2 linked regions of the Homo sapiens genome follow. The protein of the gene in region 2 purifies or fractionates together with the protein of the main gene of each other region. This does not show direct contact. Each region holds a gene or a part of one and is shown on either strand. Other genes may lie near its edges. The genes, in order: USP33 and RNPC3.

Evidence for each region.
Region 1: the proteins of RNPC3 (region 2) and USP33 purify together in Homo sapiens (co-immunoprecipitation; one large-scale study listed by IntAct). This does not show direct contact.

The regions. Positions count from the first base shown.
Region 1 is NC_000001.11:77,753,353-77,756,852, forward strand, and holds part of USP33 (ubiquitin carboxyl-terminal hydrolase 33), read right to left. Parts: intron 1-3,500. UniProt on the Homo sapiens protein: Deubiquitinating enzyme involved in various processes such as centrosome duplication, cellular migration and beta-2 adrenergic receptor/ADRB2 recycling.
Region 2 is NC_000001.11:103,528,451-103,532,486, reverse strand, and holds part of RNPC3 (RNA-binding region-containing protein 3), read right to left. Parts: intron 1-4,036. UniProt on the Homo sapiens protein: Participates in pre-mRNA U12-dependent splicing, performed by the minor spliceosome which removes U12-type introns. U12-type introns comprises less than 1% of all non-coding sequences. Binds to the 3'-stem-loop of m(7)G-capped U12 snRNA.

The sequences.
Region 1 (3,500 bases), about 26 Mb from region 2:
AGGGGCATGAGGATCGCTTGAGGCCAAGAGTTCAAGACCAGCCTAGGCAACAGAGTGATACCCACCCCCCATCTTTACAAAAAAAAAATAATAATTTTTTAATTGAATAGAGTGGTGAAAAGGGGAAAAAATAATAGCCAATCTTAATGTTCGCATAAAATAAGTAGATTATATCTGGAATACAGTATTTTATTTAAGAAGAATACTAAAAGCTACAGAATAAGAGTGCCTCTCATAGAAAACCTTAAAAGAAATAATTTGAAAACTGTATCTTATAAGATAGCACTGTACTAAGAGTAAAGTTTCTGGAGCAAGGCTCCACTATCTCCTAGATTTGGGACCAGTGGTAAGTTTCTTCTCTTTGCCTTAGCTCCCTCATCTAAAACACTGATCTAATTACAAATATCTACTTTCTAGAGTTTTGGAGAAGATTAATATATAATATTTTAAACTAATTATATAATTACACATAATACGTTAATATATAATTACATATTATATATTAGTATATATAAAATACTTAGAAGAGGGTGATATAGTAAGTACTCAGTAAATGTCAACCATTACGAACTGAAAGCATGGATGTTTAAACAGCAGAAGGCAAAAGATGCCAGGACTTGATACACATGTTCCAATTGAACATGATGACCAAAGGGATCCTTTCTTTTCTGTGCAACTTGAGAAAGTCAGAACAGCATATTCAATCAACGGTGAAGACTTCGGTTCAAATACAGATGAACTTTCATGGAAGGAGCATGTTCCCCATAATTGTTACACAGAGGTTGGGTAACTGTCAGAGGTGCTTCAAAGGACAGCAAGCACTTTGCACTAAAAACTCAGAATTGAATTAAGATTCTATGATTATAAAAAAATTGATTTGTCTTTCAACAGTTTCAATCTAGACTATGGTTCCACGAGTACTAGTCCAGCAGTACCATATGAAATATTACACTTTAGCAAAAATACAATGAAGGAATAAGCTTATGGCTTATCTTTCCATATTTATCATGGAAGAAAATTGCTACCCAATAAAAGCAAGCCAAAAAAACTGATGAATGGAAGGAAGTTATCAATGAAGAGTGCAACAACAAGCAGAAAAGTTTATTTTATTCTCAATCCATAGTAAGTGCTCAGGGAGACTTTTCACAAAAGAAATCAGCTGACAAGCATTTTAAATAACTGTTTCTTTCCCTTTAAACAAATATTCTGAGAATAAAATCATTCAAACCTCTGTGAGGATTTGAAGATCCCACAAAGTCCTATAATACTTACCTAATCATTCTTAATTTTCATTCAAAACCACAACACAGAAAAAGAAATGTAGTGCTAATCTTTTTATTTCTCTTTTACTAGAAAATCTGTCTCATTGATCCTTAAGAGTCTAATTAATGAGAGCCTTAAGGCTATTAAAAGAAATACGCAGTCTTCTAACTGAGTTCTCTGGCTACAACCTATGTGTTCTACAATCTATTCTTAACATTACCACTATTAATAATACCAAAGTATAGCTCCAATCTGGCAATCTTCATTCCAAATAACATCCTCTAAATGAGATTTGTAAATATTAATTAGCATTTCCTATAAAGATTTTTAAAAATCTGTCCAATAATGAATGGCAAAATATGGTCAATTCTAGCCTTATCTCGTTGAAATAATTTTGAGAAATATTGGAAGAGAGAGGAAATAGAAATGAATTAATGAATATGACAGAGTTCTAACAGAGTCTCAAATAAGCTGATGATAATTTTCACTCTAAGTCTCACTTTTGAGCAAGATGAAGAGTTAATATACTGGCATTACGGAACAGTCATTAAAAATATTCATGTAAACCACATAGAAACATGGAAAAACCTAAATCTTCAGTTCAGCTTGTGAGCAAAAAGAAAAAAGAAAGAAAGAATATGAGAAAACAAATGCTATCACCATATTCAAATGAGAACCACCATAAGAAAAATTATCAATTCTTTTATTGTTTACCAGACTATAATATTGATTTTAAAACTAATCAAAACTGATTCATCTAAACACAGTAATGCTTCCATAAAAAATATAAGAAATTCCAGCCAGACATGGCAGCTCATGCCTGTAATCCCAGCACTTTGGGAATCCAAGGTGGGAGGGTCACTTGAGGTCAGGAGTTTGAGACCAGCCTGGCCAACATGGTGAAACCCCCATTTCTACCAAAAAATACAAAAATTAGCTGGGTATGGTGGCGTGCGCCTGTAATCTCAGCTACTCCAGAGGCTGAGTGGTGAGAACTGCTTGAACGCAGGAGGTGGAGGTTGCAGTGAGCCAAGATCGCACCACTGCACGCCAGGCTGGGCAAGAGTGAGACCCTTTCACAAAAAAGTAAAATATATAAGAAATTCCTCTTCTAGGATTTTATAAAAGTTAAAACCTGTGGGAAATGGTCTTATTTTAGGTCACATTCAGCCCTATAGTTTCACCACATTACTGTATTTCAGGACTGTGATAAGCCCTGGGGGATAGAAATTAATTTAACAAATGCTTATAATCCAGCATGGGCCAGACATTATAAGTTTGTGGGGATGGCAGCATTGTTCAAGTCTCCACCCTGCTTTCCTTTTGAATGACTGGTCATCAACACTCTTATCATCACTCTCCTGAATACTATGCAATTTTTTCACTTTCCTTAAAAAACTAATTTGAAAGTCAGTGTCCTTCTGTCAACCCTTCTTTTTCACAAGTTAACTAACTTTTAAACCTCAGTACCATCTTAGATCCCTCCTTACTTTTTTCATTTACTTTTTTTGAAATGGGAGGCTCTCTATATTGCCCAGGTTGGACTTGAACTTCTGGGCTCAAGCAAATCTCCTGTTTCAGCCTCCCAAGTGACTGAGACTACAGGCTCAAGCCACAGCACCTGGCTCCCCTCCTCACTTTCTATCAGTTTCTAAATTCGGCATTTTTTTTTTTAACCACATTTCATCTCACATTTCTTCTAGGTCTCTATCTAAATTGAGGCTTTTATTTCACATCTGGATTATTCAATGAGAATGCCTGTTAAGACACAGAGTTGATACCTGGACCATCTCCTTTCAGCTCACTTCAATGTTTACTTGTAGCTGGTATGCACAGTTAACACACTGACAACTTCCCATCTCAACTACTTCTCTCCTCAGCTCTCCAGCACCTCAGGAGCTTGCCAAGCCCTACCTAACCAGTGTACCTGGGAAGTTCTGGGAGCCTTTTAGATAAAGGCAATCTTTATCAGTGAGGATTGACTGTAGATGGAAAACCACCCAGCTCCCCTTCATTTGGGGCAGTTATACAAAACTCTGAGGCAGTTATACAAAAATCTCCAAAGGCTTAAGCAGCCTCCAGTTGGCCTTCCACTATTAACCTTTTTTCCTCCTTCTCTGATTCTACCTGCTTCCTCACTTGTGCTTTATAGCATCTCACCTGCACCCATGTCATCTCAGGTCCAAGTTCAAGATGCACTTCAGAGAAACCATAAGGGCTACAAAAATAATGGTCAC
Region 2 (4,036 bases):
CCTGAAGTCAAGGAACACATATTCAAATAATGGATAGCGCCCCATAGATATCTAACAAACATTTCAAATTCAACATTTCACTTAATCTTTCCCCCAGCCCCAAATGTGCTCCACCAGGAGCCATCTCTATTTCAGTTGATAGCAACTCCATTCTTCCAATTATTCAGGTCAAAAATCTTGTAATCATCCTTAATGCTTCTTTCCTACATTCCATATCCAAGTCATTAAGAAATCCTGTTTGCCTATACCATAAGGCCATAGTCATCAAAACAGCATGGTACTGGTATAAAAATAGGCACATAGACCAATGGAACAGAATAGAGAACACAGAAATAAACCCAAATACTTACAGGAAACTGATCTTCCAGAAAGCAAACAAAAACATAAAGTAGGGAAAAGACACCTTATTCAACAAATGGTGCTGGGATAATTGGCAAGTCGCATGTAGAAGAATGAAACTGGATCCTCATCTCTCACCTTATACAAAAATCAACTCAAGATGGATCAAGGACTTAAATCTAAGACCTGAAACCATAAAAATTCTAGAAGATAACATCAGAAAAACCCTTCTAGACATTGGCTTAGGCAAAGACGTCATGACCAAGAACCCAAAAGCAAATGCAACAAAAACAAAGATAAATAGATGGGACTTAATTAAACTAAAAAGCTTCTGCACAGCAAAAGAAACAATCAACAAACAGACAACCCATAGCGGGAGAAAATATTTGCAATCTATACATCCAAAAAAACCACTAATGTCCAGAATCTACAAGGAATCCAAACAAATCAGCAAGAAAAAAAACAATCCCATGGGCTAAGGACATGAATAGACAATTCTCAAAATAAGATACACAAATGGCCAACAAACATGAAAAACTGCTCAACATCACTAATGATCATGGAAATGCAAACCAAAATCATGAGGCAATACCTCCTTACTCCTGCAATAATGGTCATAATGAAAAAATCAAAACATAATAGATGTTGGCAGAATATGTGGTGAAAGTGACTTTCACACTGCTGGTGGTAATGTAAACTAGTACAGTAAGTATGAAAAATAGTGTGGAGATTCCTTAAAGAACTAAAAGTAGACCTACCATTTCATCCAGCAATCCCACTACTGAGTATCTACCCAGAGGACAATAAGTCATTATACAAAAAAGACAGTTGCACATGCACGTTTATAGCAGCACAATTTGCAATTGCAAAAATACGGAACCAGCCCAAATGCCCATCAATCAATGAGTGGATAAAGAAATTATGGTATATATATATATAACATGGAATACTACTCAGTCATAAAAAGGAACAAAATAATGGCATTTGCAGCAACCTAGATGGAATGGGAGACCATTATTCTAAGTGAAGTAACTCAGGAATCAAAAACCAAACATCGTATGTTCTCACTCCTAAGTAGGAGCTAAGCTATGAGGACCCAAAGGCATAAGAATGATACAATGGACTTTGAGGACTCAGGAGAAAGTGTTGGGAGTGGGGGTGAGGGATAAAAGACTTCACAATGGGCACAGTGTATATTGCTTGGGTGACAGGTACATCAAAATCTCAGAAATCACGACTAAAGAACTTATTCATGTAACTAAACACCACCTGTTCCCCCAAAACCTACTGGAATAAATACAGTAAGAAATCCTTGCTTCTACCTTCAAAATATATAAAGAATCTAATCACCGCTAACCACTACCATTGTGGTCAAGGCAACCATCAATTCTGGACTGAATTACCACAATATTTTAACGGATTTCCCTGTTTCTACCTTTCCCTCCCTTCAGTCTAGTCACAACAGCAAAAGCAATTCTTTGAAATACCAAGGTCACCCCCTTGCTCCAATGGCTCCCTATTTTACTGACAGCAATCTAAGTTCCTTACTATAATCTACATAATATAGATTCTATGACTTCTCTGACTTCAAATCCAATGATCACTCCCACTCCTGCTCCCACAGATCACTCCCACTATGTCTGCTCCAGTCACAGTGGCTTCCTTGAACAACGTGACAGGCATGGTCACATCCTAGAGCCCCTGTTCCAGCTGTTCCTCTAATTCAAAGGTACTTCTCCCAGAAATTTCATTAGCTAACTCCCTTCGCATCCTTCAAATTGTTGTTCAAATATAACCCTAACTACAGCCTGACCTCTCCCCACTTAGCACTCCTGATCTTATTGCTCTACTTGTCCTTTTTCCATAGCATTTATCATCTTCTAAAATATTAAAGTTTATTATTTATTGTCTGTCTCCCCTTTTGAGAATATGAACTATAATCATCTTTGTCTTCACATATAATCCCAAAACCTAAATCAGCATCTAGCACATAGTAGGTACTTAATATTTTTGAACACATGAAAGTACAAGCCTTAACCAGAGACCGGTTTTGTGCAAGACAATTTTTCCACAGGCTGGGGTGGGGGGTGGGGAGAAGATGGTTTCGAGATGAAACTGATTCATCTCGGATCATAAGGCATTAGTCAGATTCTCATTGAGAGCGCAACCTAGATCCCTTGCATGTGCAGTTCACAACAGGGGCCAAGGCACTGCTGATCTGACTGGAGGTGGAGCTCAGGCAGCCAGGCGGAGTCGCCCTGAATAGAGATAAAGCTTCCTCAGCCTGCCAGTCACCTCCTGCTGTGCGGCCCAGGTTCTAACAGGTGGTGGTTAGGTACCAGGCCGTGGCTGGGTACCAGTCTGTGTCCCAGGGTTTGAGGATCCCTGCCTTACATCATCATACAAAGTTAATTTTAAAATGTTTCAATAATTTTCAAGACCCTAAATGAACTTTAGACCTCTTTATTATCAGTGAAGCCTTGATTATCTGAAATGAAGGTCATCTAACCTGACTTACTCCAACTTTCTTCTTCTCAAATGGGTATCACATATGTTCTTATTTTCAAAGATTTATGGTTTTTCATTTTTAATGTTAACTCCTCCTACCTGACTCGGCTACTTACTCTATTCTTGAACATTTCTCCCTTTGTTTTCTTAATCTATCACTTTCCAATTAGGCCAAATGCTCTCTAGCCTAAAAGCCCTATCAATATTGCCGTTAACCTCTTACTGCTTCCTTTCACTACAGACATTTCCAAAGACAATGACTGGCTCCATGTCCTCTCCTCCAAGTTATTCTTGACCCTAAAACAATGCGTTTTTCATTACCATACTTTATTTACAATGTATTATGATATATTTTTAAAAATACTTTTTTTCTGAAAAAAAATTACCTACCATTATAAAAGTACATATTAATATAATATGAAAGCCCTCTGTAATCCTACTCTCAGAGAAAGATGTTTTTAACATTTTGGTGTATAGTTCTGCCATATTTTTTCTGTGTATATGCTAACATGTATACTATTAGTTTCAAAAAATCTGAGGTTACATCATATATAATGTTTCACAACTTTATTCATGTACTCTATCTGGGCTATCATTCCATATTAACACATACCATTTGACATCATTCTCAGACAGTTGCAGTCCAGTATATGGATATAATGTGATTTAAGGCTTCCCTTCCTTTTACCGATGAGAATTTGGGTCATTTCTATTGTTTCATGGCAAAAAGACTTTAATAGATGTGTTCATTCCTCATTTTGCATCATCACAGGATTTCATCTTCTTAAAACACACTTCTCTTTGCATCAGTGATAATTTCCTTTCTAGTTCTCCTACTTTAACTGCTCCTTCCCATTCTTCTCTCCTAGCTTATTATCCTTTGGGCAAACATATCTATTCACATGGTTGAAGAATCTTTCCATTCTTCACCTTGCCTCAGCTCTCATTAATATTTTTAAATATTTCCATAAAAGTAGCCCAATGACCCCTCCAAGTTAACAGATGACAAGTGAATTCATCCTATGCCTTTGCAAACATCCTCTGGATCCTCATGTCAGCTAATATAACAACCCAAATAACTCAATCCTCAATCTAAATATCCTGAACTATTCTCTCTCAACCCCTATATTATAAAACCTACAAACTCAATCTCTATTGAATATATATTTACTTCCCCCTTTGTCTTCTT